2 linked regions of the Homo sapiens genome follow. The protein of the gene in region 1 interacts with the protein of each later gene in a pairwise test. Each region holds a gene or a part of one and is shown on either strand. Other genes may lie near its edges.

Region 1 (6,863 bases):
GGCTCACATGATATTTCTTTTTTTGTGGTTTATTTTTGTTTTGTTTTTCAACTGAATACTCCACTTAAAAAGATTATCACACTGGATTTTTTAAAAAGTATTTACCACTAATAAGAGACACAAGAGACACATTTTAAATATTAGTATACAGAAAGGCTAAAAATAAAAGGATAAAAAATACACTATGCAACACTAAAAAGGCAGCTTAACTAATAAAGTTTAATATCTAATTTAGACAGTACAAACTGACATAAAACTCAAGACGAGGGCATGAAATCTTGAATAATAAAATTACATTATTAAGATTGGAATGTATCTTAGTAACTGATGCCCAGGGTGAATTGTTTCTTTCTCTCTTTCTTGCTTTAGTCAGAGATTTCAGTGCCTAAGAGGAATGAGTAATATTTAATGCATAGACAGAGGAGGAAGAGGAGTCCACAAAGGATTGTGGGAAGGGGGAAACAGGAATAAAGGCAATACAACAAAACCAACAAAAACTCATGAGAGTTTAGAGATTCAAGGAGAAAGATGAAGATAAGCACCAGGAAATAATCCACCGAAGGTAGAATTAGAAACCAGACCTCAGTGGGTTTGACTGGGGAAGGTGAAGGAGTAGTAATTGTAGCCCATTCTTTTAAGAAGTCTGGCTATTAAAGGAAGGATATAAGAGTACTGACTACAGGAAGATACGGGATTAAGAAGTAGCTTTCCTTTCTGAAAATGAGAGTAATTTAAGCATATGTTTATCCTAAAAGAACCAGGTGACAGGGAGAAGACCCAGAAAAGAGACAGAACATTTGATAAACAAGGTCTCTGAAGAAGCTGCAGCTTTGGATAGGAAGAGGACTTATTTCTTTGATATGGGAAGAGATGCAAAGTGATTAAGGTGGAGAAGTTTGTAACTAGTAGTAATAAGTAGATGAAGGTGTGGCCTGATAACTTGGTGGGAGGAGGGGAAGTAATTCATTTTTTTTGTATTTTACAAAAGCATCGGTCTGTGACAGACTGGGGGAAACGTTAACTGGTCCGATACCACGATTAGGTGAGAAGCATTACACTAGACCATCAAGGCTAGAGCATGCCACAAAAGATGGTGTAGGAGTGCAGATAGGAAAAAAGTCAAGGCAGACTAAGAACTATGATGCTATGGTCAGTTTGCCTGTTTAAGAAGAGAGGGCTGCATGAGTAGATGTTGGAATTCGAGATAAAGAGGTAATAGTGATGTGAAAGTATCAAGGATGCCAAAGTATCAAGGAAAGTGGGAGAAGGGCCAGAAAACAGGCAGTGACAGCAAGGAGAGCAGCAAGAGGGTGGTACTGACAGTGATTATTAATCTTGATCAAGTAGAGACAATTTGCTACAAAGAACAGAAAATTAGGTCCCATTCCTAGTGAGTAGATTCTTCATCTGATTTTACTAGAAAGAATATCTCATCCAGCCAGAAACCGCATACTCTGGCTGAGATCACTGGATTACAGAAATCTTTCCCCAACTGCAAGTTTCCATCATGCAAAATTTTAGCACACATACCTTTTCAGCAACTGTGCGCATTTCAGTTCCAGTATATGCAAATTTGGAGTCACTCCTACTGGGAATAAATTAGAAAAAAAAAAAGGAAGTGGGGTTTGGAATATAAAAAGGAATTAAAGCAAAATAACAGGATTAACTGTTTTTGCAATGAAATCTTAGCAGAGACCAAAGAAGAGGAGGGAAACTGAATTGAGGCTAGAGCTGCACTCTATCTGTTAGAAGCAATCTGGGACACATGCACAAGTGGCTGAGTGTATAAAGTTATAATGGACAAAGCTAAATTCCTGGAATCCTGGGAACTAAGGAGGTGGGCTTGAGAAGTATACTATGGTATGATTTGAAGTTTAAATTAAAATGTTACCGAAAGGTTTCACCACGTCAAGTATTGAAGCTACTGGGGATCTCTGAGATCACTGAGGTCCATCAGGAGGAAAGGCAATGTCACTGTCAATTTACGTGAAGGAATGGATCAATGGGGAAATGCCTCTAAACGTATATGCTCTCTGTCACTAAGAAAATTACTGATATCTCACTGGCATTTAAGGGGAGACAGAACATGAAATACACTGAGCAAGGCCAGGTGTGGTGGCTCACGCCTGAAATTCCAGCACTTGGGGAGGTCGAGGTGGGCAGACTGCTTGAGCCAGGAGTTCGAGACCAGCCTGGCCAACATGGTGAAACCCCGTCTGTACAAAAAAAAAAGACAGCCGGGTGTGGTGGCGGGCACCTGTAATCTCAGCTATTCGGGAGTCTGAAGTATGAGAATCGCTTGAACCTGGGAGGCGGAGGTTGCAGTGAGCAGAGATCGCGCCACTGCACTCCAGCCTGGGCGACAGAGTGAGGCTCTGTCTCACCCCTAAAACGCAACAATTATGATAATGCTTATTAAGATGTTTATCCCATATCTCAACTGAATAGGAGGTAAGGCAGAAACCAAAGTTCAAGGTTGTATCATTAAGGGAGCCCCGGAGTGATAATGGTAATTAATTTAAGACACGATCCGGACACAATACTGCCAAAGTCGCCATAATTTTAGGTTAACAATGACTTAGAGATTATAAGATATGAGTAAACAAATACAGTCTTACCTTGTATCATCGTTCAACTAGAGTGGGAAAAAGCAAAAAACATTATTGATCACATTACGTTTGTTTGACATATATGGATGCAGATTATATGACAATTAGGTCATGTGTTCACGCACATGGTATGAAAGACTGGAGAATTACTTTAGACTGTAAACAGCTAAACTGTATTTCCTCATCCTCTTCGGCCCCTCCTCAACACAATGCAGCGGAAACTTTTGCTTCCTTCAAGCCCCGCACCTTCTGTTAGGCTCTTCGATACCCTTCAAATGCTTTGGTTGATATCTCTGCTCCCTAGACAGAAGACTCGAGGCGAGGCAAGGGGCTCTAACTGTGGTCAGCTGCTGCGTCGTAATACCCGGACATCCTCATTATACTCCAGTGTCTTTCTGACCTGCCTTGCAGTTTTGGTCAACCGGGCGAAAAGCGCAGATCTAAAGAGAAGCCCCAGGCTACAGGAGAAAGGGCAAGGCTCCCGGGGCCTGTACAGACCGCCGGGGGCTCGCAGGAGACTAAACAAGTGTCAGGCGGCCAGAAGAAACGGGGCTCCCCGCGACAGAGCTATGTAAAGGGTGTCCAAGGACCTAAATCGAGGATGCCTGTGGCCTCCGCAGCCCTGGGAGCTGCCGGCACCCACCCCGGGGACACACTGGGACTGCTCAGCAGGGTTCCATCCAGGCTAACAGACCTACTCACCTCCCCTATGCACAGCCCCATTACTTCCTCCTTCTCTGTGCTCAGAGCGTGGTTGAGACAAACGAGGAAAGCGTCAGACTCGAGATGAACCGCCTGCACCGCCTGCACCACCTGCACCGCCATCTTGGCCCGACCCTTCTCACGTCCGCCTCGGGCCCACTTGGTCCTGACCAACCGGGTGCTGCGGCGCAGCCTCCCCAGCGCCCAGCGCTGTGCGCTCCGCCCAGGCCTGGCCTTCGGCGCGCGGGTTCCTAGGGGGCGGGGCTTAGGGAGCGGGCGGGGCTGTGGGGGCGGGGCTGTGGGGGCGAGGAGGGGGCAGCGGGCGCGCGGCTGGCGCGCGGGGGCGGGCCTTGGGGCACGGGGGCGGGGCCCGCCCAGCAGCACCTGGGAAACGCCCGCGCGGTTTGGGGCAGGCGTGGCCGTCGGGGCGGAGGGCGGTGGCCGGCCGCGGTCCGGGCGTCAGGCCGGGCGGCGGGGGCGGCAGGGAGGCGGCGCTCTGGGGCCGCAGGCGGACGTACTCTGTGAGCGGCGCCCGGGCGCCTGGGCAGGCGCCTCCCGAGTACCGGCGCCCATTTTGCCCGCCCGCTAAGGAGACCCGTGCGCGGCCTACACGCTTGGGGGACAGCCCTTTAAGACGACATCTCCGCGAACGCCGGCCTCTTGAGCCAGGGGGACGCTCTTTTGAAAGTCAGTCCCAAAACAGTTAAGGTTTTATTTTATTTTGTTTTATTTCCAAGTCACAGCCCCCGAATCTCGTACAACTCTCCCTGGACCACTTCCGGTTGCCGGCCCGCGCCTCATAACTTCGGTTCGAGTGACCTCGGCCCGGGATGCCCCTCGGCTCACCCCGGGCTCACGTCGCGATCCTGGCTTGAGTGGCCCAGGGTGGGAGACCTGGAAGTTTTAGCCTAGCTGTTCTCAAGGCGGATTAATTAGCCCAAGAAACATTATATTCATGTGAGTAACCTTTTGCAGAAACAGTGTTATACTGTATCTGAAAAAGTATCACTCTTAAGCTTGGCTGCTGCTACTTTCTACAAAGGCTTTTAGGTAGCTATTTGTTGGATACAGGGAAGGGGAAATGGAGAACTTCAGTTTTTATTCAAGTTCGGATGTATCACATTAGGTATCCAGAATGCAAGTTTCCTCGGGTCTCCTTGTCTCGATGATATCAGACAGTAAAAATATATGTAAAAGTAATTTTTATTTCGAGGTATGTCAAACGTGCCAAGGATAAAAGTACAGATCTTCCAACTCACAAGTCTAGGAATCACACGTGGATTTTGAAAGCGATTCTAAATCAAAGCACAATATATGCCGTGCCGCCTCCACAGCCCGTCCGTGTTCGTGTCTTTGATTTGGTTTTCTACTTTGTGTAGTTTTGAAGCCAGGCAGGTATGGCAGTACTGGAAAGGGAACATTCCCAAGGTGCTACTTGAAGTGTTGATGCTTTGCTCTTTTCTCCCAAGTCAGTTCCAACCCAAGTCTCCCCACACATAGGGTCCCCATCCAGTGCAACGATCTGTAATGTGCACGCCAGCAGCCTCCGTTTTTACCTAACGATCTGTAAGGATCACATGGCACATCTTTCTATAATTAATTTGATCATGATGAAGGTTGGAAAATTTTCGTGTGCAGTTACATTGGACCTGTCTAAATTTTCTCTTGTTTCAATTTTATATCATATGTTATTTTCAGTTACTGTTTGTGGCTAGTATGCCCCGTCCTCATGGAGCAGGAACGGCTGTTCTTATTATTATGACATTAACATTTGGTGATGGGATATAGTGCCTTTAGGCACTTTCAAGAAGAAAAATACCTTTTGTTTGTTATCGGCGGTAGTCAATCTCATATTCCAGAATGAGGTTCACTAACTTTTCTAATGCTCATGGCTGCCTTTTACAGCTCCAGGCATTTAACTGGAGTAGAACAAAATTATTAACATTTATGGCAAGCTTATTATATGCTAGATACTAAGCATTTATATGCCTGGTACATGTAAACTGCCCCATTTGGAGTCAAGCTCAACAACTTCCCCACTGTGTGACCTTGAGCAAGTTACCTAACTTCTCTGTGCCTTTCTTTTCCTCACCTTTAAGTGGGGATGATAATAATTCTGCCCACCTCATAGCGCCCTATGAAGATTGTGAAAATTAAATGAGTCAATATATGTAAACATATAGGAAATGCTAAATAAAGACTATCATGATTAATATGTTCTTTAATTCTCATTTTACACCTCAGGAAACTGAGGTGGAGAGACGTTAACTTGTCCAAGGTCACAAAGCTAGTAAGTGACAGACTCAGGACTCATACACAGGCCTGGGCCTGTGTTCTTGGTAATTTCACTCATTGTAATTGGACGAGTTTATTAATTGACTTCTAATAAAATAAGTGTATTCAACTGATCAATGTTTAAAAACTGTTCATCAACCTGGCAATTAAAGCAAACTATACTTTTTTAAAAAAGACACAAAAGAATTTATTCTGTAAAGGAAAAATGATAGTTTTACTTAGATTACTACCTAAGGAAGCCCTTCTATCTTATATGTCATCCATTTAAAACCTAATTTACAAAATGCCTTACTAAGAAATTGTCTGTCTTGGCCAGTGTGCTCTCTGGCCCCGAAATCAAGGTGACCCTCATGGGGACAATCTCTTCTAGTGGATGATAAAGTTATGCAGTTATCTAAACATTTTTGGAATTCATTTGTATTTGTAGCTGGCAGTATTCCTTGAGTTGAGTTGCACAAGTTTATATTCCATGTATTGTATTGCACCTTGTACCTAAGTCTATGTTGAGGTTTTAAAAGATTCGTCTTAGTTCGAGAAGTCCTGAATTTTGTAAACAAGTATCATGTGCAAATAAAATGTTCTCTAGTCAAATAAATTTGGGAAATGTTAACATAAAGTTTCTTTACTGCATAACTTGCCAGAACAGTTACTACACTAATGTGCTTTATGACTCTCCAAGATTCCCAAACTTATTTGACCAAGGAAAATGTTGGGAGCAAGTTTTCTAAGAATCACATTTTTCCACTCATAAAACCTGTGATTGTATAGGCTTTGATCTGAATCCCTCTCCCTCAGCCTTTGCATTTCTCTGCTGAGGACTTTGTTCATGCTCATATGGTGACTTCTCTGTCCCTTGATCACTGCAGTTGTCTTTCTCTGGGCCTGCATGCCCTCTGAATGCTAGCACACACAATTCCAGGATACTGTGCTGAGAGGTGGTTCCCAAGCTCATCCCGCTGATGCCCAGCATGTTGACCTTTGGGTCACAGCAGCACATCACACTGCCTTTCTTCTGAGAATATTTTGTAGTGACTCATAGGCCTCTTTGTAGTGACTCAGTAACTCAGACCATCATCTCCAAACTCTTTGCCCTCTATTCCACTGGCATTATTTCCTTTTAATGTCAATATAACCAATGCAATTTTGTTTTCCATTCAAAACAAATTTAAATGTCAACATGTTGGTTGTTGCTAGGACCTATCTATGAAATTGAGATGGTCCTGAAACCCTTAACACATGGTTTCCACTTTTTTAAAA
Region 2 (3,567 bases), on another chromosome or scaffold:
CCCCCTATGGGGGCAGAAAAGCAATAATGTCCAGGGGCAGGCAGGGGCCCTTGGGAGCTGCAGGGCTGGGGGTTAGGGCTGCTCCCTGGTGAATGGAGTCAGATCCTAGGATCTGTACCATGGGGAACCAGGAGTGGCCGGGCTGGGTGCCGCCTCCTGGTCCGGCCTCCTCCCCACCAAACTGTCCTCACCCTATGGATGAGGCAGGAGGAACATTTGGGGCCAAACCTGCCTGCCTCCCAGCCCCGTGCCTTACTAGGGCTTCCTTCCAGCTGGCCTTACCTCCCGCTGGACCCTGGGCCTGGCCTGGCCCCACTGGGGGCTATGGGCTGGGCTCACCCTCTCCTCTGCGGGGGTGGAGGGCCACCAGCCTTGGCTGTTACAATCTTACACCGGACAGTATTGGGCCCCATGGACTTGGTCAGGGAGGGGTGGGGGTGGGCATCTCTGGTACCTATTGGGGTGGGGGGCCTCTGAAAAGGGAGGCTCCTAGGCCCCCCTCACCCCTCCCTCTCCCCAGGGCCCCACGTTCTGCAGCCTTAAGGTTGAACATGAGTGCACGTCCATGTCAGTGCTGTGGGACTCCTGTGCGTGCCTCGGACTGCGTGTGTCGGCGGGACGCAGGCACACGTGGGTGTGTGTGCATGTGTGTTTGTGTGAGGGCAGCGTGTCCTCCAGTGTGCATGGTGTGTGGGCTTGGGCCCCATCCCTGGCCCGAGCATTTCATCCTGTGGGGGAGGGGTGCTGACCTAGTGGGAGGAGCCCCACTGTGATCCATGAGCTGCCCTGCCCACGCCTCCCCTCCCTGTAGCAACACCTCTGGGTGTTTGGAGTTTAGCTTTTGTGGGTTTGCTCTCCCTATCCCATCTCCTGTACTACACAGTTCATGGCAGGGTGGGGAGGGGTGGGGTTGGTTCGGGTGGGTGAGGGTCTTTTTCCTCTGTGTGCGATGTTGTTATCTGACAGTTCTCCGTCCCTACTGGCCTTTCTCCTCGTCTTCATATTTGTACGGTACAAGCAATAAAGACACTCATTTCAGACCAGGGCCCAGCCTGCACTCACGCCAGCCCAACCACTCTGGGCTTTGCCTTGGTGATGGAGTCAGACCCCTGGGCCCCAGCTCCTCCTGTACTAGCCGTTCCCTTCAGCAAGGAGGGCACTGAGCTCAGGGTGAGGGCAGCTGGGGTGTGTGCAGGAGCTCAGGCTGGAGAGGGTGGGTGGAGCTGGTGCTGTGGGGCTGAGGGGTATGGGAAGGCTCCCCGCATGTGGGGGTGGGGTGGACAGAGACCACTCCAGGCCCTCAGTGCTGCTTAGGCTAAGAGAGGTGGGGTGGAGGGACAGGGCTGGAAGATCTGGGTAGCCCAGAATGAGGAGGGTGCCTGTGCTGTCACTGAATGAGAGGGAGTGGTTCATTCCACCCGGCTGCCGAGCCTCAGAGGGGGGCATTCCTATCCTGCCCCACCTCCCTGTTTATGCTGCCACCTGGAAGCCTTGAGGCCCCCAAATTCCAGTACAGACCCAGTGGTGTGTTCATGGTGGCGTGGTTGCTGTCACCTGGGAGCTCCTGAGCGTTTGGTTAGAACCCTGTTCAGCTTGGGGTCAGCCCTCCCCTAGTCACTGCCCTTTAGCCTGGATGTGTCTGGGCCCCTGCACTTCCCGTGCTTGAGTCACGTGGCTGCATGGCCGGGCGCTGGCCGGATGGAACACCTCCCCCAGCAAGGGACCAGGGACCAGAGCCCTGGCCTGCCCTGCTGAGCCCTGCTGTGCAGAGGGCCTGGCACAGATGAATTTGAGATTTTGCCGCAAGGTGTTAGCACTTCACACCCATTGAGTCTTTGAGATTTTAAGTGAATGTAAGCAGAAAAAGTCAGATCCAATTTACAGAAATCAGAGTTAGCTACAGCTAGGACTCGTTTGGTTGGGGTTTTTTAGTTTGTCTTTCTAAAGTCATGTGGACCTTAATTTAATTACAAAAGTCTACCCTGGTGGTCATAAAATAGGCAGGCCTATGAAGAAAGGCCTTTTACTCTTCCATCTCGTCCCAGCCCCGAGTTGACCCACGTTGCTGCTCCTCACACCATGGTGATGCAGGTCTCGTAGTGTGGGCACAGGCCTGGCTACCTCATCTTTTTAGTGCCTCTCTCCTCTTCCACAGGATGGGGTCCCACAGCTGCAGCAGCTGGCCCCGTAGTTGAGCATGTGTGGTTATCCTGTAGAGCTTTTCCCAAGAAGGGTGTTTGAACTTAGAGTCTTAATAAAATCTTACCAAATAAATTTTGAGTAGAATAATCGTCTTTTGCAATGTACATTTTAAAAATTTCACACATTCTTTTTTGTATATAAAGAACAGTGACTGGGCACAGTGGCTCATGCCTGTAATCCCAGCAATTTGGGAGGCCGAGGCGGGCGGGTCTCTTGAGGCCAGGGGTTCGAGACCAGCCTGGGCATCATAGGGAGACCTTCATCTCTACAAAAAATACAAAAATTAGCTGGGCATGGTGGTGCATGCCTGCAATCCCAGCTAACTTGGAAGGCTGAGGTGAGGTGGGAAGATCACTTGAGCCCAGGAGTTTGAGGCTGCAGTGAGCTATGATTGCGGCACTGCACTGCAGCCTGGGACAATGAGACTGTGTCTCTAAAAATAAAAAAAAAAAAAACATGATACATGCTATTAAAAAAGACAGCAAAGCAGGAGTATAAGAAAGGAAATTCACCCGAGGTCGCAGGGCCTTGAGTACTCATTTTGGTGCTGATTACCTCTCTGCAAATGGACACGGCATCATAAATTGGTAGTTTCCTGCTCTTTTTGTGTAATCTTTTCCAGTTAATGTGAAGCCTCTGGGGGCTGCCCTCGTGCACTGATGGTTGTGTGGAGTCGGGGGCGGCAGTGCGATTCCCTTTTAGCTGCTGCATGGGGGGAACTCAGGCTTTCCAGCTGCTTCCTGGGGTTCCATGGGGTAGACCCCTCAACCGCTTCAGCTGCCCCGTTAACAGGAATTGACTTGGTTTCGTTTGGTGCTACCAGCAGTCCTGTAATAAACTAGCTATCCATCTGTACTGTGCTGGTGCTTTTGTTTGTCTACATCCCAGGATTTTAATGTCCAGTACCTTTCCAAAAAAGTGTAGCCATTCAGATACTTTAAATTTTGAAATAATTGCAGACTTGCAGAAAACTTTCAAAAATAGTGCTGTACTAAGATTATTCCAGGCCTGGGGCAGGAAATGTACAAGATGAGCCTGGGGCATCTTGCAGTGCCTGAAAGCACGCACTGATATGCTTAAGTCACAGGGACACAGGAGCCAACAGAAAGCTTCCAGTGGCCAAAGCTGAAAAGAATTTGAACAACAAAATAAATAGCATAATATTGGGTTTTCACCTAAAATGTGAAATAAGTCTATTGCTAAGTGGCAAAATGGGGAGAATATGCAAATCTACACAAAATCATAAGTAATTTCTGTAGACAGCCTTCAAGGAGGGCTATGGAACCCCCACTTCTTAGGCGTGGGCTGCAGTGACTCCTCCAAAGAGTGCAGTGTGGAGAGGGGGAAAAGTAACTTTTCAGTGAA

What was found. The genes of interacting proteins can lie anywhere in the genome.
Region 2: the proteins of MTCP1 (region 1) and AKT2 interact in a two-hybrid assay, tested with the Homo sapiens proteins (one study listed by BioGRID).

What each region holds. Positions count from the first base shown.
Region 1 is NC_000023.11:155,068,099-155,074,961, reverse strand, and holds the start of MTCP1 (protein p13 MTCP-1), read left to right. Parts: upstream 1-3,825; 5' UTR 3,826-4,268; intron 4,269-6,863. Other genes in the region: BRCC3 (lys-63-specific deubiquitinase BRCC36), read right to left, coding at 1,531-1,588, 2,619-2,635, 3,312-3,434. UniProt on the Homo sapiens protein: Enhances the phosphorylation and activation of AKT1 and AKT2.
Region 2 is NC_000019.10:40,229,807-40,233,373, reverse strand, and holds the end of AKT2 (RAC-beta serine/threonine-protein kinase), read left to right. Parts: 3' UTR 1-3,057; downstream 3,058-3,567. UniProt on the Homo sapiens protein: Serine/threonine kinase closely related to AKT1 and AKT3. All 3 enzymes, AKT1, AKT2 and AKT3, are collectively known as AKT kinase.